3 linked regions of the Homo sapiens genome follow. The protein of the gene in region 3 purifies or fractionates together with the protein of the main gene of each other region. This does not show direct contact. Each region holds a gene or a part of one and is shown on either strand. Other genes may lie near its edges.

Region 1 (8,063 bases), on a different chromosome or scaffold from region 3:
ACTGCCCACAGCCCCCACCCCACCCCGGGCCCCCGCTCACTGCCCACAGCCCCCACCCCACCCCGGGCCCCCGCTCACTGCCCACAGCCCCCACCCCACCCTGCTTCTAGCTTAGTGAGCTTCCACCAGCCGGGGGCAAGGAAAAGACCGCAGTTTCCGCAGCTACTCAGACTGGATTTAGCTCTAGCTCTGATAGGCGGGTCTCTTGGGGCAAGTCCCTAGCTTTAAGCACCAGTCTCCTCACTGAACTTTCCTAACGGGTTGTTGCAGTAAAACCCACAGGTACCACGTGCGATGTACCTTTCACGGGACTGACACACAGGTGCTCAGTAAATGGAAGTCTTCAGTTCTCTCCCCTGGGTTGTCTGGCTTTGCCTCTTGCTAATTCCTAGCTTTCTCCTACAGGTTCAAAACTGTCAGTGATGGCTGTGACAGGAGCCAGGAGTCCTATTGTCTAGAAAACTCAGGACCCCCTGCCCTGCCTATACACAGCCATTCTCCATTCAGTTTCCCCCATCCCCTTCTTTTCCCTTGGAAATGTCATATTTCATCCTATGAACACATGGTTGCCAACACAGTCCCCCAGCCTGGATCACCTTTCTTTTCCTCTCTGCTCCTCTGCACAGTCCCATTGGTCACCCCGCACCCTAGTGTTTCTGGCTATGTTTCTGACACTTGAGGATTCTAAGCTGTGAGAGTCAGAGGCACTTACCTCTGAATCCCCACAAAGCCCTCAGCACAATGCCTGGCACATAGCAGGCACTCAACAAATATTTACTGAGTGCTTGCTAGGTGCCAAGCACTGATCTGGGTGCTGCAGATACAGAGGTGAGCAAGGCAAGCAGGGGCCCTGCACCAAGGAGCTCCCTCCCTAACTGGGAAGGACATGGCAATGACATCAACACATTTCAAAAAGGAAAGAAATAAAACAGAAAAAAGGGAAAGTGGCTGAGGTGGAACAGGGGTTGGCCCTGGATTGGGTGGTCTGGGTAGGTCTCATCAAGGAAGTGGCATGTGAGCTGAGTGGGATGATGAGAAGGAGCCAGCCATGGGAAGAGGCAGAGGAAAGCATTCCAGACAGAGGGGAGAGCATGCTGGAAGTGTCTGGGAAACAGAAAGAAGGCTGGGGTGCTGAGGCACTGCAAGAAGGAGAAAGAGATGGCTGTGAGGCTGGCTGGGGCGGGCCACATGGGGCCAAAGACCACAGTGAGGGGGTGGGGAGCCCCCCAAGGGCTTTAAGCAAGAGTGACATTACCTGACATGGGTTTTCTCTAGCTGACACTAGGGACAGAAGGGGAAGCAGGAAGACCAAAGAGGAGGCTGTGGTGCTGAGAGGAAAGATGACACTAGTTTGGGCCAGACAGGCAATAGTGGAGGAGGGTGTGCCACTGCCCACTGCCATTCCAGCCTGGGCGACAGAGACCCTGTCTCCAAAAAAAAAAAACTAGAATGGTGGGGTGCGATGGCTTACGCCTGTAATCCCAGCACTTTGGGAGGTCGAAGCGGGCAGATCACTTGAGGTCAGGAGTTCAAGACTAGCCTGACCAATGTGGTGAAACCCCCGTCTCTACTAAAAATACAAAAATTAGCCGGGCGTGGTGGCGGGCGCCTGTAATCCCAGCTGCTCAGGAGGCTGAAGCTGGAGAATCGCTTGAACCCGGGAGGAGGAGGTTGCAGTGAGCCGAGACAGCGCCATTGCACTCCAGCCTGGGTGTCACAGTGAGACTCCATCTCAAAAAAAAAAAAAAAAAAAAAAAGACTAGAAAGGTGGGTGACCTTGGATTCATGATACTACTGCTGGAACTCATTTTCCTCTGGAGATAACGAGGGTAGTGACCGATTCTAGTTTTATGTAATTGTTTAGGGGAGTTTTCTTAAGCAATGCCCGTCAAGTGCTTGGCATATGAACCCTTAGCTGTTAGTATCTCTGTGTTAGGCCTATCGACTTTGGTAGGGGTGATGGGGCAGGCGGTGCAGCTGGAGAGGCCCGATCACGAAGGGCCCTAAATGTCAGAGCACAGAGCGTGGGCTGAATCCTGTGCCCCGGAGAGCGGTGGGAAGGATTCGTAGAGGGGAATGTGCTGCTTAGACATGCATTTTGGAAGCCCCCTTCCCTGCAGAGAATCCAGGACTGGTCCAGTAGAGGAGACGGGGAGATGGGGTAGGGTGTCCGCTCACTTTCTAGCAGGTCCACCTCAAAGTCCTTGGTGGGCAGACGCACGGAGTTGAAGCCCCAGGTGGGGATGTGGCCTTCCAGCGGTGGCTTCCCCGACAACACGCGCAGGAACGTGCTCTTGCCTGCGCCATCCAGCCCCAGCACCAGCACCTCGCGCTGTTCCAGCTCCTCCAGCGCCGGCTCCTCGTCCTCCTCGTCCTCGGGCTGCGGGGAAGCGGAGGTAAGGTTGCGGCTGGCGGCCTCCCGAAGGACCTTTCCCGAGGGAAGACCGAAGGCACCAGAGGGCCCAGGCCCGCCTTCCACCCGTCCTGGGACAGGCAGGCATGGTCTGGATGAGTGGGACGAACGCCGCCTTTGCAGTCCTGAATTCCAAACCCTTGGCGAATTCCTTAAACGCTCGCGCGCCCCGCTTCCTCCACCGGTCTCGGAGTCCCGACCGCAGGCGGGAGGGGATGGGGTTTCTCCCGACATCCCCACCCCCGGGCGGGGTGCACTGCGCAGGCGCCGGAGGGGCGCGAGCCGACCCGGCTGGGCCCCGGGATGCTCCCGAGCCGCGCCCTCCAAACTCCGGCCCCCGCTGGAACACCCGAGCCTCATGGCGTGGAGCGACGGCGTGGCGCCAAGGCGCCGCACGCACCCAAGCACACCCACCCGTTCCTCGGTTCCCGGGCTCTGACCGCCCACCCGCGCGGGGCCTGTGCGCTGCGGCTGCCAAGCCCTCGACCCCCCAAGCTCCCGGCACCAGCAGGGCCGTTCCGTGGTCACACCCCTTGGCCACATGCGCGGAGTCGCAGCCCAGCCTGCCCGCCCTTCCGCAGGCCTCGGCCCGGCACTCACGTCCCACTCGTCCCACTCGGGGAGGCGGGCAGCCTCCGCGCCCCACCAGGCCTCTCCCCGGTCCCAGCGCCGCTCTCGGCCGCGGCCGAAGTAGGTCTTCCAGAGGATGAAGAGCACCGAGCCCAGCACCGCCGCGGCGCCGCCCAGCGCCAGCACCAAGGGGCCCAGCGGCCGCGGCGCCATCGGGCCGGGCGAGGGACGCAGGTGCGGGTTGCACAGGCCGAGCCCACTCGCCCGCCGAAGATGGCCCCGCTGCGACTGCTGCGGCCGCGCCCACCCACCCAGACCCAGTCCCGCACTACAAGCCCCACAATGCACTGCCGCTGTCACGGCAGGCCGCCCGGGACCCGGCGGCGTGGGTGGTGGGGCGCTGGCCGGCGCGCGGGGACCTCCGGTCCCCCTGCCAGGTGCAGGGTGGAGGAAGGAGAGGCTGTGCCTGGGGAGGACGGGAGACGGCGGTGCTTGCTAGCATCCACCAGGGGTTAGCTCACGGCTTTTCTCCGTTACCCCTTACAATGATACCACGCAGAAGGGAAAACCGAGGCCCAGGAGTTAAGTAACCCGCCCAACGCCGCATCGTAGTGCTTTGGTGTAGCCTGCGTTCAAACCCAAGCGATCTGTCTCCCGGTCATCCCTCAAGACCTCGGGAGGAAATTGAAGCAAGACGCCCGATATCACACGGCAGTGGGGTGGCAGAGGCAGGAATAGAACCCAGGTCCGTGGCTCCCCGCCACCTCTAGCCTTCTTTCGCTGCCTCCCGGACCACAGGGGTTTTGCTGGGGTCCTGGTCAGGCTGAATTAAGCAGTGTCAGGACTTCAGAATGTTTAGGGCTGACTGCCTTGTCCTAGGTACCCCCAGTGACTGCCAAGGCTTCCACGTGTGTAGCACGAGGAGGAAGAACAGGAGAAACGACCTGAGTACAGCAGTCGGGTTCTTTTGGCTCTCCAGAGGGGTGACGCCATGTACGGCTGGCTGTAGGGTACATGGGTCGAGAGACCGCCTGTGGCTCTCAGGGCCCAGCAGGGCTACCTCTTCCCCTTTATATTGTCTCAACTCTTCACCTCCTTTTAGTTTGCGATTCCTCTGTACCCCTGGCTCTGGGTCCCAGCCCCTATTCCTTCTGATTTGTCCCCCTTTCCCTTTGACTACATATATATGCTCCTCTCCTCCCAGATAGTGATGTTTTAGCTACATCTTATTTCTTCCGGCATTGATTCTTTTGAAAAATTTATTTCTGGCCGGGTGTGGTGGCTCATGCCTGTAATCCCAGCACTTTGGGAGGCCGAGGCAGGCGGATCACCTGAGGTCAGGAGTTCGAGAATAGCCTGCCTAACATGGTGAAACCCCATCTCTACAAAAATTAGCCGGGCGTGGTGGCACGTGCCTGTAATCCCACCTACTCAGGAGGCTAAGGCAGGAGAATCGCTTGAACCCAGGAGGAGGAGGTTGCAGTGTGCTGAGATTGCGCCACTGCCCTCCAGCCTGGGTGACAGAGCAAGAATCCGTCTCAAAAAAAAAAAAAAAGAAAAAAAAATTAGCTCCTCCTCAAAAATACACCCACTTAGAGGGGAAAACCCACAAAATTGCTAAGATTAAAAGTTTGGCTGGTGCGGTGGCTCACGCCTGTGATCCCAGCACTTTGGGAGGCCGAGGCAGCCGGCCGGATCACGAGGTCAGGAGATCGAGACCATCCTGGCTAACACGGTGAAACCCCATCTCTACTGAAAATCCAAAAAATTAGCCGGGCGTGGAGCCGGGCGTGGTGGCAGGCGCCTGTAGTCCCAGCTACTTGGTAGACTGAGGCAGGAGAATCGCTTGAAACTGGGAGGCAGAGGTTACTGTGAGCCGAGATTGCGCCACTGCATTCCAGCCTGGGCAACAGAGCGAGACCTTGTCTCAAAAAAAAAAAAAAAAAAAATGTTTACAGTCTATTATTTGTGGAAAAGAAATAGGTGCTCTCACATAGGTGCTATGCACCAAGACCATGACAGCTTCAGACATTGGTACCACAAATATCAGGGATAAAGTTTTTTTTTTTTTTGAGATGGAGTCTCACTCTGTAGCCCAGGCTGGAGTGCAGTAGTGTGATCTCAGGCCTCCCAAAGTGCTGGGATTACAGGCATGAGCCACCACACCCAGCCAGAAATAAATTTTTCAAAAGAATCAATGCCGGAAGAAATAAGATGTAGCTAAAACATCACTATCTGGGAGGAGAGGAGCATATATATGTAGTCAAAGGGAAAGGGGGACAAATCAGAAGGAATAGGGGCTGGGACCCAGAGCCAGGGGTACAGAGGAATCGCGAACTAAAAGGAGGTGAAGAGTTGAGACAATATAAAGGGAAAGAGGTAGCCCTGCTGGGCCCTGAGAGCCACAGGCGGTCTCTCAACCCATGTACCCTACAGCCAGCCGTACATGGCGTCACCCCTCTGGAGAGCCAAAAGAACCCGACTGCTGTACTCAGGTCGTTTCTCCTGTTCTTCCTCCTCGTGCTACACACGTGGAAGCCTTGGCAGTCACTGGGGGTACCTAGGACAAGGCAGACTGCAGCCTCCGTCTCCCAGGTTCAAGAGATTCTCCTGCCTCAGTCTCCAGAATAGCTGGGATTACAGGCACCTGTCACTACGCCTGGCTGATTTTTGTATTTTAGTAGAGACGGGGTTTCGCCGTGTTGGCCAGGATGGTCTCGAACGCCTCAGCCTCTGAAAGTGTTGGGATTACAGGCCTGAACCACCGTGCCCAGCCAGAAAAAGTTGTTTTAATCAAATAGTAACTTCCAGGAAAGTCTTAAGTTTTCATGTATTTGTGGCTAAGAAATAAATGAGATGATCCCACCTTATGATCTACATAAGGGTGCAAAGTGCTATTTCTTCCTTTTCTGACTGAGAGGTGATATACATCCCTTCCTGTGGTGGATAAAGAGCAAGGTGCCAGCTTTGCTTCCACAGAGGTTAAAAAATATGGCATATTTTAAAAGCTCCAAATTAACAAAGGAACACCTTTAACACACACACGCACGCACACATATACACACAATTATACTGCAATGTAATTGTGCTGTTGATAAGCTAATTATAGAATTCATCAAAGACTTTAATTCTTAGTGCACTCAAGCACCCTGGTCTGGAAACAGCGCTTAAGTTTCAAGTCGCATGAGCAAGGCCTCTCAGTTCTGCCAGTACGGCTGGAAGCCTCAAATGCTGAAATCTAAATGTGACATTCACCCTGCACCACCAATCATAGCTCTCCTGAGATGAGTTTTGATGGCGAGCTTTGGACTGGGGTAGAAACGTGGATAGATTTTTGCAAATTCTGCTGTAACTTCGTTGCTTCGCCTTCTTTGTGAACCCTTCAGGGATAAGAGAAGTCTTCCTTCAGGATGTGACTGACACCTCAGCTGGCGCCTCTAAGCCTCACTCTCCTTTATGTAAAAGAGAAATGATATTAGGATCGCCTTCCCTAGGGGAGGCAGGTGAGGTCGGTTCCCTTTTTTGGTTCAGCTACTAGTACGAACCCTGCCTAACCCCGCTGTTTTGGGAGACAGTCCGTGCTCACTGCACCGCTTGCTAATCGAAGTGACTTCTCATCTCTCCCAGTCTCAGCTTCACCTCCGTGAAGTGGGAAAAACAGGATGACAAGTGCTCGCACTTGGCAGCCCTTTTTGAGCCTTGAGGGCTTGGGTTTGTGGGTGTCATTTTACTATGCTACCTCCGTCTTCCCTTAGCTTGTCACGGACCCAGGCACAGCACACGCGCTGAGGAAGTGGTGGTGAAGTGTGGCGTTTCCTCTCGGGGCTGGCGGATTCCACACTCGGAGCTGCGGCTCCACAACTCGCTGGGCGGCGAAGGGCATGGGGAGGGGGCGGGTCTCGCGATCGTGGACAACAACTCCCAGCATGCCCTGTGCTCCGCTGGGCCAAGTCTCGCGCGAGATCCCGCGGTCTCCGGAGGCTTTATCTGCAGTGCTGCCTGCCCGCTGGGTGGTACTGCTACCTAGTGGGTCTTGGGGACCTTCGAAATCGCCGCCGCTCTCACAATGGCTTGGGTCCAGACTGCGCCACAGCCTCTCGGGAGACGTGGGCCCTCGGAACCTTTTTAGTGCCGGACTCCGGGCCGCAGGCAGTCCCGCGGCAGCAGGATCACAGGTGAACAGATGGCGGGCCTGGGCCCTCCCTTGGGGCTGCGTTCTCTGGCGATCAGGAGGGGCGCTTCCGGCGAGGCCCGATCTCGGGGCCCCTCCAAGCCACTCCCCTCTCCCCGCACCTCTTAACCCTTCATCCCGGCTTCGAGCTCGGCTGGGTCGCCTCTTGCCTCCCTGGCTCCGCTCTCTGGGGTCTCCGTAATGGGGCTTCTCTCCGGGAATGCCCTGCAGCTCCCGTACGGGCTTCCCCTCCGCTTCGTGGGACCAGCCCAGCCCGAGCCCCCGCGGCTTGTCCTCAACCTCATCTCCCCACACCCCGCCTTCGGCTAGGGTCCTGGCCCTAATCTTAGCCTGGAGGGGTGGGTGAAGCAGCCGGCCTTTCGTATCCTGGCGGCACCGTCTTGTATATTGTGAAGGAGAGGCAGAGGGACGGTGAGCTGGGGGGTGGGGGCACAGGGAAAGGGAAAGGGGAAGGGGACGTGTCTGGGGCGGGAATGCTCCCTGGACTGGGAGGATGGCTGAATTCGGCCTTTGCGATGCTCGTTAGTGAAGAACTATCAATAACTTGTTTGCTCTGTCTGAGTCCTATCGGGATAGAGGGACGGTGTAGCAAGCTGAAAAACAAGAGTAACTTTCTCAGGCCCTCGTTTTAACTCCCCTGTAAACTGGGCATGAAACTACCTACCTTGCGCACGGACCACTTATCTGTGACCGTGGACAAATTTACTTAACTCCTCTGATTTTTAGTTTCCTTCTCTTTATTATTATTTTTAACATTTTTTTAATTTTTTTAATTTTTATTTTTGAGACCGAGTCTCACTCCGTCGCCCAGGCTGGAGTACAGTGGCTCGATCTCGGCTCACTGCAACCTCCGCCTCCCGGGTTCAAGCTATTCTCCTGCCTCAGCCT
Region 2 (7,585 bases), on a different chromosome or scaffold from region 3:
TGGGGACAAAGTGACAAGATGGGGAGTAGGGAAGTGGGCACTAGTTTGTGTGTTAATAGGTCAGCAAGTCTTTTAGAGTCCTGGGAAGTAAAATAAAAATTAAAACAACAAAAACAAGCCGGACAGGGCAGCACATTCCTGTAGTCTCAGCCACTAGGTAGGCTGAGGTGGGAGGATCACTTGAGCCCAGGAGGTTGTGTCTGAGCCTCCCAGCTACTCGGGAGGCTGAGGCAGGAGAATCGCTTGAACTCAGGAGGCGGAGGTTGCAGTGAGTCAAGATTGTGCCATTGCACCCCAGCCTAGGCAATAAGGTGAGACTCCATCTCAAAAAAAGATAATAATAATAAGGGGAAAACTCAGAGATGGAATTACATGCACCAGGTGTAGTGTGAGCAAAGGATTAACTTCCTGATACATTCTTGTTTCCCATATATATAGCTATCAAGGTCATCTTTTAGTAATGAGTTAAGTTCTTTCTTTTCCAACTCAAAATTTGTCTGCATCTTTACCCAAATATCCAGATCTGATACTCTAGGCTTGGGCTAATATAGTGGGGTGGAGGAGGCTTGGGTTAAGGTTTAAAGTTCCAAGGGCTGAACCGGAATAAATGGTGTATTTATCAAGGGAAGAGCAAGGCAAAACCAGCAAGTCCAAACCATGGAGGCCTCAACCGAGGTGAGGGGAAAAGTTAGGGAGCCTTAGGAAAGCTCTGAGGAGGGACCCCAATTAGGGGGACCGTAGTTAGGGTATGAGGTTTGTGAGATCAGGACTGGAATTGCTGCAAGAGACCCTATGATTGGGTGGCAGCAGCATGTTGTGGAGATGAGCCTGCTTCCTCAGCCTCTTCCTCTTGTCAGAACCCTTTGCCTCTCCCTACACACGCACACACACATGCATGCACCATGCTACAGAAACCTTTCTCAGTCTTGCCATTCTCTCAAATTATGCGTTGGTCTTCCCTTCATCTTCAGATTCTTTAAAGAGTAATCAAAGTTCCCACTTCTAGCATGATGAAGTGAGGAGGTCAACAAATCTTTCCAAAATGTAACTGTATAGCTGGACAAACCATTTAGCATTCTGCAATTTTACCAAAGGCACGGCACAAATGGGGATGTGTTTAAGAATGAAAGCTGGCCAGGCGCGGTGGCTCACGCCTGTAACCCCAGCACTTTGGGAGGCTGAAGCAGAAGGACCACTTGAGCTCAGGAGTTCAAAAACAGCCTGGGCAACTTGGTGAGACCCCCGTCTGTACAAAAAAAAAATCAAAAAAGGCATGGTGGTGCACACTTGTGGTCCCAGCTACATGGGAGGCTAAGGCGGGAGAATCATTTGAGCCCAGGAGATTGAGGCTGCAGTGAGCTGTGATCACACCACTGCACTCCAACCTGGGCAACAGAGTGAGACAGACCCTGTCCCTAAAGAAAAAAAAGAAGAATTAAAGTGAGCCTTGGATAAGACCAGCCTGTGTCCGTGGCATCTTTGCCCAGGCTGCTACCCCCATTTACCCCAGCTGTTGATAACACACACAGCGGCCCCCAGCAGGGCAGCCTGTGGAGATAAGCTCCCCTGCCACCTCGCTGCAGGGGCTGGAGGCAAGAGTGAGGAAGGTTTTGATTTGCAGCATGGCTAGTTAAGGTGGTGATATCAGTGACCAGGAGGAAGAAAGGCCACTGACTCCTAGCCTGAGGCTCTGGGCCTTTGGAGACGAGCAAACGACCTGCAGATTAGTCATGGATGTAAGAGGGAGCTCCGGGAGGTCGGAGAGCCAGAGGGAGCTTAGTAAACTCTTCACACTACCCAAATGGACTGAAGGCTCATAGCTGGCAGAGATTAGAGCAAGCCCAAGCCATGTCCATATGCCCAGGGCACACAGCCTGTGTGTGTGCCGGTGCCAGTGTTAGGAAGTAAAAGCCGGAACACCCTTGCAAATGGCCCGGGGCGTGCCTCCTCCCCATTGCACATAGATCCAGCAGCAGATGGTGGAAACCATATTGGCTTTAACTGATGTTTGACTGACGAACTATGCAAACAAGAAGCGACCTCTAGGGAGTCAGTCTGAAAAATTAAAGCAAACAAATGCCAACAATAAAACTTAGCAATGACCTGAGTGAGTGCACACTGTGGAGGAGACAGGCTTCCTGCATGGAGTCCAGCCAGGAGACAGTACAGAATGCATGGAGCAGCTATTGGAAGACATTGAAAACTAAATAGTTGCAGGCAGCTTTCCCAAGAAGACCAGAACTTGAAGTACCACCAAACCGGTGGTGAGATAACCATGTTTCCCCTATGGCATCCCGTGACTAACCTGGCAGTGGGCACCAGGGTGCAGATAGAAAGAGCTCCAGAAGATGCCCTCTATTTCTGGCTCAAGTAACGGGAAAAGGGTCTCCTAACATTCCGAGGGAATCCAGAAGTTCGTTCCTCCCCATTTTTCTTTTCCCTGTTCTCTCATACCTCAGCCCACAAGCAGTCCCACAGTGGCACTGGCACCAGCCCCAAGAGGAGCCCAGGAGCCAAGACGCAGGAGGGAACCTTCTCCAACTGACAGAGCTGTGGTCCCAAGAGGGCAGAAACAATCCATGTTGCTTCTCTTCCAATTCAGTCCTCCCACTGCTTGGCTTCAGATGTAGAAATGCATGGTAGAGCCAGATACCGAAAGCCTGTTTTCTGCTTGGAAGACTAAAAAGAGAAGCCTCAGCAAATGAAAGCAACAGGGTAATTGCTGAGAGAGAGTTAATCAGTGAAGCAACCCCATTAACCTGTCTATAAACCCCAGGGCTCATTCTTGAGCTGCTCCTGCATAGATCTCGTCCTGTTCAACACACCAAAGATTGACAGCTGAACTGAGAGACCATCACCCACAGACACAACTGGCCACTGGGTGGTGCACAAGTCAGACAGAACTGAATAGTCCTGTGAAGACTCTGGACACTGAACTGACTTTGGAACCAGACTGCAGAATGGAGGGGTGGGAACTTGTGGCTTGAACCTAATCAGGTAGATTGCCTGGCCAAAATGAAAATACCTATCATCTCCATAGGATTTAATTTCATTCAATGATTTTTTTTTTTTTAGTAAATTTGCAATGTTTTACAGCCTTCCCCAAAATCTAATTCCAAAATATCTCTATCACCCCAACGAGAGACTCCATTCACGTTGGCAGTCACATGCACTCCCAGATTTCCCCTCCACCCAGCCCTTGGCAATCACTAGTCTACTTTCTGTGTCTTTGAGTTTGCCTACTCTGGATATTTCATATAAATGAAATGATATATGAGGTTTTGTGATTGGCACCTTTAATTTAGAATAATGTTTTCAAGGCTGATTCATGTTGTAGTATGCATTGGTACTTCATTATTTTTTATGCAAAAGTAATATTCTATTGTATGGCTATACCACATTTTTCTTTGAGACAGAGATCTCACTATGTCGCCCAGGCTGGAGTTTAGTGGCTCTTCACAGGCCTGATCACAGCTCCTGCATGGATCAAGGAGCATCACTGCAGCTGCAAACTGCAGCTTCAAACTCTCCGGCTCAAGCGACCCTCCTGCCTCAACCTCCCCAGTAGCTGGGCCTACAGGCACGTGTGTCTGTGCCCAATAATACCACATTTTAAAAATCCATCTTCAGTAGATGGAAATTTGGATTGTTTCCACCTTTTACTAATAAAAATAGTACTGCTATAAACATTCATGTATAGGTTTTCTTTTGTTTTTGTTTTTTCTTTTTTGTAGAGATGGGGGTCTCGCTGTGTTGCCCAGGCTGGTCTCAAATTCCTGGACTCAAGTGATCCTCCCATCAAAAACTCCCAAAGTGCTGGGATTACAGGCGTGAGCCACTATGCCTGGCCTGTATACAAGTTTTTGTGTAGACATGTTTACATCCAATTAATGAACACAGGATGTCTTTCCATTGATTTAGCTCCTCTTTAATTTCCTTCAACAGTGTTCTGTAGTTTCCAGTCTACAAGTCTTACACTTTTGGGTTAAATTTATTCATAATTATTTTATTATTTTTGATAATATTATAAATGGAATTGTTTACTTAATTTTACTTGAATTGTTCCTTGCTGGTGTATAAGTAGACATCTCATTTTTTTAGTTGACCTCGTATGGTACAATCTCTTTGAACTCATTTATTATCACTGATAGTTTAGGTCTTTTTTTTTCGAGGTTTCATTAAGGTTTTCTATAGATAAGATCATGTCAAGACACCCTCAGACCACAGGGCGGCGCCACGAGCCCGGCCGAGTGCAGCTGGAGCGCCGACGTCGCCGAGGATACACAGTGCTGAGGCAGAACGCAGGTTCGTCACAGTGGGCCTCCGTGGGCGGCGCCGCACGCTCGTCACAGTGGGCCTCCGCCGGCTACGCCGCTGCTTCAGTGGCTTGCAGGCACTTTCCTCTTGGAAGTGGCGACTGCTGCGGGGCTGAGCGGTGCTCGCACGCGTCTCGGGAGCCAGGTTGGCGGCGCGATGAGGCGCAGCAAGGCCGATGTGGAGCGGTACGTCGCCTCGGTGCTGGGTCTCACCCCGTCGCCTCGACAGGTGAGTGGGTCTCGAAGAGAGCGACGGCGGCCTCGACCCGGCCGGGGGGCGGCGGCGGCGGCGGCGGCGGCGGGGGGGGCGGCGGCGGCGGCCGCCTCGATGGCTCAGGCGTCATGTCTCCCGAGGGGCGCTGCTCCGTGGCGCGCTCTGTTGAGGCGCCGGCCGGCTGGCGCAGTCCTGTGGGCGGCGTGGCGCTTGCAAGCGCAGGAAGAGTCCTGGGGGGACCGCGGCGGGCGGGAGACCGTTGGCGCCGGCGCTTCCTCTTAATCCCGGCTTGTTCCCGACGCTTGTTCCCGACGGTGCTCGCTCCTGGGCCCGTCCTGGCCCGGGCTTTCTGGCCGATCGCGCACCCCGTAGTACCCGCGCGGCCTAGTTCTCGGGGGCTTGGGCACCCGGGTGCTGTATCGGCGGGTTTCTTCCCATCTCCTGGACATTTACTTTATATGCTGCGGCGGAGGTCGTACCTCCTTGGCCTGGAGGAACCCAGTGGGGACTGACGCAGCTCCGGGTGAGCTTTGGCGGCTGCGTCGAGTGACAAGGTAGGCATCTCAGCGCGGACATTTGCAATGGCCCGACGGCGCAAATGACACGGAAAGTCCCCTTGTTTTGAGTATGAGGTGTTTGTCGCTGTCCCTTTGTAAGGGTCCAGCTCCACTCCACTCCTCATACTCACCTCCCTCGCCCCCCTCCCCGCCCGGAACACTTTGGTAGCTGCCTTTGCTTAAAAAAAAAAAATTCTAAAGTTCTTACAAATCGTTAGTATGGCTTGCAATTTTTAACCTTTTCCACAGATGTTTTAAGGGTATTTTTCCTCTTTACATGTAAATAATGCTGAGATTACAGGTGTGAGCCACTCTGCTCAGCCTGATTTTTTTTTTTTTAAACAAGCTTAAAAAAAAAAAAAGCAAGTTTGGAGCCTTTCTGAGATTCTTAGTGGGGACCTTGGCTTCCAAAAGATTAAAAACCACTGGTCTAGACAGAAGTTAGAATGTTCTTTCAACTACATAACTTCTCCATTAAATAAAGTGGAGTGGTGGCAGAATTTTGACGATTGGTTATTATGACACCTCTCTTACATTTAGAGTCTTTTTTTTCCCCCAAATTTAAAGTCATTTACATTAGAACCTGGGGATTTCAGCGGAATATGGATTAACTAGTGAGTAACTGGAACATGTGAAGCTATTCTGTGAAGTTAGGTTTGAGTGAAATGACAAAACAGGGTGCTTTGGATAGAAGGTAAAGAATGGAGGGAGAAGAGGCAGTGGCTGTGAAGAATATGAAGAGGTTAGTATTCTCCCCCAGTTTGGCAGAGGCTGGCCATCTGTGAACTGCCCATGCTTTCTAGAATGTCGGAGTTTTGGAGTGTGATGATGCGTCTGTATATCATATCTTTCTAGTCTTCCATTGCGCTTTCATTTGTTAGTCTCCTCTTGTTTTGCCATTTTTCTACTCCCTCACATGTGCTTTTGCCCTTCTTAAAAATATTCTTCGTCTGTAATCCGAGCATTTTGGGAGGCCGAGAGACCAGCCTGACCAATATGGTGAAAATCCGTCTCTATTAAAAATACAAAAATGAGCCGGGCGTGGTGGCAGCGCCTGTAGTCCCACCTACTCGGTAGGCTGAGACAGGAGAATTGCTTGAACCCTGGAGGCAGAGGTTGTGGTGAGCAGAGATTGCGCCACTGCACTCCAGCCTGTGTGACAGAGCGAGACTCTGTCTCCAAAAAAGAAAAAAAGAAAAAAAATATAATTCTTTCTCTAGTTTTTCTTTTTCCAGATGGCTTCTGTTTAGTTTTTCTATGTTCTGTCAAGTCGGTTTCTTATTCTGCAGCTGATTCCTACTTCTCAAAGTCTACTTGACAGCTCTTATTTTTATTTGTATTTTTTTTAGAATAGGGTCTTGCTGTGTTGCCCATCAAATTTTTGGGCATAAATGATCCTCCTACCTCTGTCTGCTGAGTACTTAGGACTACAGGCAGGCACCTTTGACAGCTGTTAGTTGTTTTTTCTGCCCTTTACATCTATACTTCATACTTCTGAGTAACACACATATATACTTTTGTTATTTTTAATTCCCTTTCTCCCATTTTAGACATTTTCTTTTCTTTTCTTTTCTTTTTTTTTTTGAGACGGAGTCTCGCTCTATCGTCCAGGCTGGAGTGCAGTGTCGCGATCTCGGCTCACTGCAAACTCTGCCTCCGGGGTTCACGCCATTCTCCTGCCCCAGCCTGTAGCTGGGACTACAGGCACCCGCCACAACACTCGGCTAATTTTTTAGCATTTTTAGTAGAGACGGGGTTTCACCGTGTTAGCCAGGATAGTCTCGATCTCCTGACCTCATGATCCGCCCGCCTCAGCCTCCCAAAGTGCTGGGATTACAGGCGTGAGCCACCGCGCCCGGCCCCATTTTAGACATTCTGTACTGGCTATTATGCTCCTCCAAAACTGTCCTCAGACACTTTGGTTTGCCCCTCATTCTTTCAGTACTGTTACTGCAGTTTTTGTTTAAATGAATAGTTAACATTTATATAAATAGAAGGTAAATATTTTTGCATTTGAATTGCCCTTGTTGTGCAGTTTTTTGTTGTTTTTTTTTTATTATACTTTAAGTTTTAGGGTACATGTGCACATTGTGCAGGTTAGTTACATATGTATACATGTGCCATGCTGGTGTGCTGCACCCACGTTTTCCTGGACTGAATAATTGCTTTATTTTTTGGTTTGCTTGTATGTTGTGTTACTACTTGCTTACTTAAACTCAGCAATTTAAACCCTCAAATGTGGTCAAACTGGTCAGATAATCCCATCAATTTCAGCTTAAAACACTGATTGATTGATTGATTGTCTGTCTACCTGGAATACCCTTACTAACCAACTTCTCCAACCCGGATTGGTTTTTCTTCCTCTTTGCTACACAGCTGTGCTCTTGGGACTTCCCTTTATCACCAGTTTGAGAATTCCCTTCATCTTTTTTCTGAGTTAGACCCTTTGTTTCTTGTATCTCATGTCCTCTTCATTTACTTTCTTTGTTTTGGTGTAG
Region 3 (8,317 bases):
CTAGGCCACCACCAGTGCGAGTCCTGCCTCTGAGCAGACCTCTGAGCCGCGGCTCCCGGGGCAGATTAGAAACAGGCAACCGGGCTGGGGCGGGGCCCAGGAGGGAGGGACGCGAAAATTCCGGGGCATAGCGGGCCTGTGCCTCAGACTCCGCCACCCAGCCACGTTAAGGTGACTTGGGGTCACGAGACAAGCTGGTTGACCCCGTTGCAAAGCTCCTCTCATTTAGCAAGCCGAGCGAGCTCCGACGTGAGGCGAGCCGGAGTTTCCTGAAGCTGGAAAACCGTTCTTAACTTCCCTCGCCAGGGGGTCCCCTCGGGGCTTTTTGTGTGTCATAATTGCCTAAAGATATATGGCAGCTTCGATTACTGTAATTACCATCAGAGGCTGTTGAAAGAAGTTAGTCTGGGCTGCAGGGGTGACTGGCCAGGGTCTCGTTACCACCCAGGCGGGGCTCCGGGTGACATCGCTCTGCTCTCCAGCCGCGAGAAGCCGGGCAAGGCGGGGGCTGCAGCTCTGTCTGCTCGACCCAGTCCTGACCCGGCCCGCTGCGCGCCGACCTCCTAGCTGCCCCGGGCCCGAGGGACGCAAGTCTCGGGTTGGCTGCCGCCACCGGTCTGGAAAGGGCCTAAATGCAGCGGCGCCACCGGCGGGGGCCGCTGTCCTGCGGGCCTGAGAAAGCTCAGCAGCCGCGTCCCGACCTGAGCCGGGGCTGGAGGCTTCCAAGGCCTCACTCAGGCTCTTGGCAAGTTAGAACGGCCAAAGTTTCCGCAAGGAGCCCGCTGTGGTTTTTCCCCCAAAGTCCGGAGGGTTGGCCTGCCTCCTAGTCCACAGCGGGGGCGCAGCCGCAGGCGGGCAGAGCTCCCCGCTCACCCCTCCCTCGCCTCTGAGGCCTCACCTTTCAAGGGCCCCAGGGGCTCCACACCCCGAAAAGGACGAAAGAGCCCGGGGCTCCTTACTTCCAGGGGTGTAGGCGAGGGCCTGTCCCGGGGCGAGCGAGCTAGGAGGCCTGCCGAGACCCACGGGCTTCAGTTTTTGCAACGGAGGCTCAGAATGCAACAGAAACGGCCTCCTGAGCCTCCTGGGAAGGACACTCACGCCCGGGAATGCGGGCAACAAAAATCGAGGTCGCTTTACCTCCTGGAGATTCCAACAGCGAGGGCCAGGGTAGGCCCGAGCCTAAAGGGAAACCCAGTCCTGGGCCAGGGTCCGCTCTGCATTCCGGCCGCGGTGAGGGCTCCTTCTCTGCTCCCTCTGCCCCAGCTCGAAACATTTCTCCTTTTCTTTTTGTTCACGTTCATTTTGCTCTAATTTTTTAAAGGTCAGCACCCAAAGCAAAACAAAATGAAAACACAACCTCCTTCTTGGAGGGGGGTAGGAGGGCGGGAATTGCATCCCACTTAAGTGAGACTTCATTACCAGTCCTCAGAAGTATCTCCGATTCTCCCAACTTTCAAAGACTCAGGACAATGAGGGCGAGTGAAAGGGGGAGGGGGAGGGAAGGAACGCACAGAGCGCCAAAAATGCTATCTGCGAAAACAACACAAGCAGCAAGGCAACTTCGGGATATGGGGACTGCGGCGGCAACGGTAGTCCCCAGCCTCAGACCCTGGAGCCCGCAGCCGTGGGCCACTGGATGGCGGGAACTGAAATGCCCCCGGGAGATCTGAGCACCGTGACCGCGCCTGCTCAACGCTGGCTCGGGCCTGCACATTCTTGGGTTCCGCAGGCAGGGTGCAAGCAAATGCCCTCGCACACACACTTAGCCCTGCGCTCGTGAGTCTCGGGGTGGTGAGAGGTCAGCTGCGGCCTGGCGTTCGGAGAGCCGGCAGCTAAGGAAGTTCGAGGAAGGAGAGAAGCGCACGGAGGGAGCAGGCCGCGCACTCCTGCCTCTGCTGGGCTCCGGCTCGAAAAGTCCTTGGGATTAGGGATTTGGTCCTCTCTTTGCTAGAGTGGTTCGCCATACTTTAAATTCCCCAGTTATGACCTACGCGGATTTAGGATTAAGGAAAATGTGACTTTTAAATTGTTTCTGCTTCCCAGTTTGCAGGATTATTTGAAATAGCTAGAAACGGGGTGCAAAGCATTCCATTCAAAATCCGCTTTGCACAGAGTTGCTTTTGCGCGCTGGAGCTCGGAGTTTTGAGCGAGTGTGTTATTGTGCTACCGCCTGGAGCTGCGGCCCAGTTCCCGCCCCCATGGCCCCCCCATCCAGCACCTGGCGGCTAAATGGAGACAACTCATCCGACTGGTGGGCTGCGCGGGTCGTAACCTTCTCACCGCACCAGACAGGGGGGATCAAGCAATCCAGAGGCAACGAAACGGCTCTCCCCTCTCCACGAAATGCTCCAACTCACGGTCTACAGGTCTGGGCCGAACGCACACGCCCGCTGGAATCCCTCTCAGGGGCTCAGATTCGCAGCGCTCCAGGCAGGACCTCCCCCAGCCTCCCCGCTCGCTCGCCCCAGGCTGCGCGCCTAGGCCCCACGGCGGCCCGAGAGGTACCCACTTGTTGATCCGGCTGGCTTGCTCATGCTGGCTGTCCCGGGGCGGAGCGGTTGGTGGGCGCTGCCCGAGTCCCGGCCGGCAGCGCCCGCCTCGCCGCCGGGCGCCGCCGCTCTCCAGCTGCCCTCCAGCCTGCAAGGCTCCTGGGCGGGACAGGTGGGTGTCAGTCGCGCGCTGCGCTGCTCCCTGGGCGCTCAGAATTCGTCCAACAGTGGAAATTTAAGCATCCTTAAGTTTCTTCCCGGCTCTTGCAAAACCGCAGCTGCTGGGAATGCTGCTTGATATGGACACACACATGGACAGACAGATGGAGAGATGGACAGGAAGACTGAGGAAGAAGGAAGAACAGCAAGAGAGGGATGTTGAAAGACAGAGATGGAGACACGAAAATGGCCTTCCTACGGAGCGAAATCCCTCTTTTTCCCCATTCCTGTCACTCAGTCTTCGATCTCTCCCTCTACATAGGCATGCAGAGTGTGGGCAATCTCTGCCGACCGCTGGTCTCCCAAGGAAAGAAGGAAAACACTACCGCAGTCTCAGAGGCAGACGGGCTCCGCGCTGCCGGAACCCAAGCGCAGAGTGGGAAAACTAGATTGCTGGGAAATCTTCCGAGGGAAGAGGCGGCCAGGTCCGGGTTTCCGGGGAGAGCCGCGCACGCAGCGGCGAAGGGTCCCCGAAGTTCATTACCCCGTGACTTTGTGCCTGTCGCTGCGGGCTGGGTCCCCTGTAATATCTCCAGAAGCGCTCTGACAGGCAGCCGCGGGGAGGGGAATAGGGCGTCCCTGGCCCACTTAGCTTTTCCCCCAACTCCTGGCGGGGTCTGACGTCAGCCATGTGCGGGGAGGGGATGGGAAGAGGGAGGGGGTTAAATGCTAATGATATTAATGAACCTCCAAGCGGCTCCCAAAGAAAATGCAGGCGCTGTCGGAGCTTACGAGTTAGAAAGTGTGAATATGGGAGTGTGGCTCTGTGCGTGCGTGATGGTGAGGACGGTGCGGCTCGTAATAAAAATGAATTCGTATATTTCACGGCAAGAAGGAAGGGGAGGGGTGACGGGGCTTTCTCAAAACGCTTTTCCCCCTCTCTCCAGAGTGCCAGATAGATTCGCGGAAGAAATTGGGTGGCTGTGTGCTGGCGTGTGATTGTGCGCGCCGGACATGGCCATGTGAGTTGGTTCATTCTTGGTCCGGTGCCCCTTCTGTTGGGTAAAACTTGGATCTGGCCCGAGGTGAGTAATTTACTCATTTTGCACATATCTACGGAAAGTCAGGGCTGAGGATGGGGTCTTCTGGAGGTTCCGCGTTCCTTCGGCCTTCGCGCAGTGGGTTTGGGCACCAGCCGAGGGGAGGATGCCGCCAGCTTCCCCAAGCAGAGCTGGCCCATCCGACGCTGAGCGAATCTCTTGTCGCCTCCATTATCTGCACCGGGGCGGCTGGAGGGCAGAGCGTTCCCTCCCGCCGCTCGTCCTCGGCGGGCGTTGCGGGCTCCCGCTCTCCGGGCGGAGGAATAGTGAAGAGAGGCCCTCATCCCCTACCCCCTCCCCATTCCGCTTGCCTTCCCGCGATTCCTGAGCTCTCTCGCGCCTTGCTCTGTGCGCGGCGCTGGGAGAGCGCATGCCGAGGGAGCGATGATCCCCGATCTCTAAGAGATTAATTCTATTTAAGCTCTCTCGGCAGCTTGAACTTGTCGAACAAGAGCTTGCCAGTCCCTCCTCAGGGCGTGGACCCGGCCAGAGGTCAGAGGTTACACCTCCCGCCCTCCGCTCGACGTTCGCGGGGAGGGGAGCTGTGGCCGGCGCTCTGCAATTCCGCCAGCCCACCCCCCGGTCCCTCTTTCTCCAGACTCGGTGTCATCCCGGGCTTTCAATCAGAGTTCGCCTGTGCGTGCAAGTGAATGCTGGAGTCCCCCGAGCCCTGGGAGGGCGCAGCAGGTCCTCCGCCTGGGCGTCCCAGGGGGAGCGGGCTGTGCGCTCCAGTGGGCTCCGACAGCACGTGATTGCAACTTTCTGCCCAGCCTTGGCTCGGCCTCGAGCTCGGGGTCTCGCACACCACACACACCAGAGCCTGTGTCCTCCTTAGTGGGGCGCCGCGACCAAGGCTGGGGTCCCGGGGAAAGAGCAAGATGGGGGGATCTTTATCTCTCAGTTTATTCCCTCCTCCTCGGTTTTTCGAATTGGGACGAGATTGGGGGATTGTGGGACGAGGCCATAAGCGCGTAGGGGTTTATTAGGTGACAGGAGGAGAAATCAGCGTTTTTTGACAGCCAACTTGTACAGCCGCTTGTGGAGCTAGCCCGACCGGCGGCGTAGCGCTTTCTCGAACTCGGCGCCCAGAGAGGGGAGGAATTTCGGGCAGGATTTGAGAAACACAATAAGATGCCAGGCTCCGTTTGGAATCCTCAGGTTCTGGTTCACGCCAGAAATCCACTTGCTTCAGCCACCTACCACCACCACCCCCATAACGCGGACGCGATTATGGGGTTCTTTGGTTCAGGACAAAGAACTTCAAGGGTGGAACTAATTTATCTGGGGCGAAGATGAGGGCAGTGTGGGGGGTGATGACTAGACCCAGGCCTGTCTGCAGGGGAAGCATTTAGGGGTCTGTTTCGAGAAGGAGAACTACTAATTGCTTTGCCTGTGCGGGGGCTGGACGATGGCTTTCCTGGGCTCCAAACCACCTCTTCCCCTACTCTCGAACGCTCCTGCCAGGCTGGCTCATTTGTAGGCACCAAAACTTCTGGAAAATACTCCCAAGGCTCATCAAATTGTCTCAAAATCAAAATGGGTATCTTCCCTCTTTTTCCTGTCACCAGTCCCCGATCAAGCATGGTGTCAAGAAGATGCCTACGGAATACACACACACCCCATTCAGCCCTGGCGAAAGGCACAACACTGCGCGCACACACCCGCAGCATATGCATCCTGTGTTCTGTGCGCCCGGCTGTAATTATCGGCGCGCTTTGCATAAATCACAATACAGTTCTGAAATCATCGTGATGACTTTCTGGCATGACTGGTTCAGTGGTAACGGCGGCAACAAGCTCCAGGGTAGGCGGGAGGGGCTGAGGCCCCGTCGCCCACCAGGTCCCAAATAAGCCTGGAGCCTTAGTGCGGGCTGCCTTCTACTCAGGCAAAGCTGCTGCAGGCCACGGGGGACCTCGGATTTAAGGCGTAGAAACTTGGGGCTACCATGGGTACAGCTCAGAGAAGAAAGCCTTTGCAGGACAAAGACTATGGCTCTTCATCTTTCTATCCACAGGCCCCAGCATGCTGCCTGATTCATAGTAGGTGCTGCATAAATGTTGGGCAAATGAAGGGAAGTCACCTGCAGATGCCCTGAGGGGCCACTGGAGGCACAGCCAGGCTAAACGCTGGAAACCACGAGATAGGGATTCAGGGCTGTGCCAACAAGCTGTGTGACCTTAGGCGAGTGGCTAGACCTCTCTGGGTTCCAGATTGTTATTTGTAAAAGGATTCTCACCCTGTTCGGTCTTAACTTTCAAAGATTTTTTCCTGTGAGTCCATTAAAGGAAATGATTGATAAGGGGCAAATGCCATCTGGCTCAGAATTATCTTTTAACAGAGACAAGACCTTAAGTTACAAGGATAAGTTTATTGCTTTGGAAGGTGGTGGGGATAGCCACACCCTCAGAGGTTCTGAAACCCTTCTAAACAGGTTCAGACATAGCCCCTAATTTCCTCTGTAGGCGCTTGTGAGTATGGAGCTCTCAACCAAAACCAAAGCCTAAAACGCAGGGAAGGTTCTTTTATCGAAGGATGTTTACATTTTGGTCCAAGAGATAGGAAATAAGATCATGAGAGGACCATGGATCAAGGGGTATTTCTGCCCATCCATCAATCTACCCACTCATCAAATACTGAGCACCCACTATATGCCAGACCCTGGGGATATAGCAGATTAATGACATGACTCCTTTCTCCATGTAGCAGGGAGCAGACACATAAAAGATGATAAATGTTTTAGATTGGGATGAAACACAGGACACTGGAGATATATACAAGGAGCCCTAAACCAGTGTGCGGTGACATAGGCTGTCCAGAATTGCCCTGGAAAGCTGGCCTTGTGTTAGGAGAATCTACTGATTCTACAGTCCTCTGAGGACTGTATTGTATTATAGCTCATTCCTCTGCTAGTGCCCTGTTAAAGAGAATCCTATTAACTAGGTTGTATGAGAGAGGCAGGGGTACAGAGCACCCCTCAAAGTTTCAGACTATCTGAGGTTGACTGCTAGCCCTGCCATTCACTAGCTTCTCTAAAAACGGTGACATTTTTTCCATTAACACCCCCTCCACACACACACATTCTTCTAAATTAAAATACCGAAGGTGAAAGGACAAGCTTTCCCATCAGCTAGCAGAGCTGATGGAATTGGTGTTAAAGAGACCCCTTCCCCAATCCCCTGTGATCGACCCCTCACAGAGGCCATTCAACCTCTAGAGAGTCACTCCTTTAAAATACCATTCCCCTTACCGATATGCAGAGTTAAGAGATGCTCAGACCAAGGAAATCGCTGGGAAAACCTACCAGCTGAGCTTGGCTGAGTTTTGATGTTTAGTATCCAAAAACATTCTGACACAAGTTTTTGTTTGTTTGTTTGTTTGTTTGTTTATATGAAGGAGGAAGTTGATTTGCATTTGCTTCCACATCATAATTCAACCTATGGCTGTTGTTTGCCCAGTGGATGGTGAGAGAGGAGGTGGGTCATGGAGCAGTGTCTGGCACATAGTAGGTGCTTGCTAAGTGCCAAATGAAAGAAACAGTGTTTGCAGGCTTGCTCTTGATTCTGCTGTGGATCTCTCTACAAGTTGTTTGATTCTTATCCAAATTTACCCCCCAAATAAACAAGAACAATCCAGAAAAGAGACGCTTGTTCTCTAGAATCCAGTGGGTCCTGAGTTGCAGGGTTTTTCTTGACACTTTTGAGCACTGTATTGCCAAAAGTAGTCTGTTACTCCCCACAAGTAGGAAGATGAACGCTGCTAACAACAAGGAGACAATGCTCTGTGTGACCACCCCCCTCACCCCACAACCTTAACAAATAACAAGTCATGTCTTTGCATTTATTCACACCCTTGGTTGGACAAAAATTCAGTTCTAAAGTCAGGCTGAGACTCCGAGGCTTCTAGAGTCCCGCTGCATCTTGACATTCTCTGGCTCCAAGAATAATCAAGTAGAAACATCTTTCTAGTCCCTTGCACCCTGGCACATAGTGGTGCTTTGTAAATGTGGAATGTATGAGTGAACCTGCCTGATGATACTCAATGAAAGCTACTGAAGCTTGAGGTGAAGGGCTCATTTTTGCTCAGCCCCAGCAATGGGGTAGGAAGGGAACAGGGACAGGTCCTCTGAATCTCCAAACCTTGGGAAGCAGTGCAGGTCATTTTTGGCTTTCTGAAAACAAAAGAATGACTAGAGAAACAAGAAAGCAGAACACAGACTACATCCAGGGAGATACTGGCTGCCAAGCTTTCTTCAGCCTCCTAATTTCCTGTGAATTACACAGTCTAACTTGGCTTCCATTTAGCGTGGAATCACAGAGCACATAAGTTACAAGGCACTCCTCTAATGTAGTCATTTTATAGATGAGGAAAGTGAGAACCTTAGAGACAACTTGTCCTTGCTTACTCACTGAGAGACAGAGATCATCCCCAGAACCCATATCTCCTGATGCTGAGTCCAGTGCTCTTTGAAATACTCATTCCACTGCATTCTACTGCATCCAGCTACCTCTCATTTCCCAGAAGGGCTTCTAGAAGCTCCAATTAAAGCAATTTCACTTACTTACTAGTGAA

What was found. The genes of interacting proteins can lie anywhere in the genome.
Region 1: the proteins of NR2E1 (region 3) and ARL10 purify together in Homo sapiens (affinity purification with mass spectrometry; 3 studies listed by BioGRID and IntAct, with this or other methods). This does not show direct contact.
Region 2: the proteins of NR2E1 (region 3) and RGPD5 purify together in Homo sapiens (affinity purification with mass spectrometry, with the first as the bait; 3 studies listed by BioGRID). This does not show direct contact.

The regions. Positions count from the first base shown.
Region 1 is NC_000005.10:176,360,697-176,368,759, reverse strand, and holds the start of ARL10 (ADP-ribosylation factor-like protein 10), read right to left. Parts: upstream 3,274-8,063; 5' UTR 3,197-3,273; coding exon 3,014-3,196; intron 2,381-3,013; coding exon 2,179-2,380; intron 815-2,178; exon of another isoform or gene 729-814; intron 1-728.
Region 2 is NC_000002.12:109,789,993-109,797,577, forward strand, and holds the start of RGPD5 (RANBP2-like and GRIP domain-containing protein 5/6), read left to right. Parts: upstream 1-4,312; 5' UTR 4,313-4,473; coding exon 4,474-4,545; intron 4,546-7,585.
Region 3 is NC_000006.12:108,160,983-108,169,299, reverse strand, and holds the start of NR2E1 (nuclear receptor subfamily 2 group E member 1), read right to left. Parts: upstream 3,279-8,317; 5' UTR 2,535-3,278; coding exon 2,510-2,534; intron 1,278-2,509; exon of another isoform or gene 1,274-1,277; coding exon of another isoform or gene 1,138-1,273; intron 1-1,137. UniProt on the Homo sapiens protein: Orphan receptor that binds DNA as a monomer to hormone response elements (HRE) containing an extended core motif half-site sequence 5'-AAGGTCA-3' in which the 5' flanking nucleotides participate in determining receptor specificity.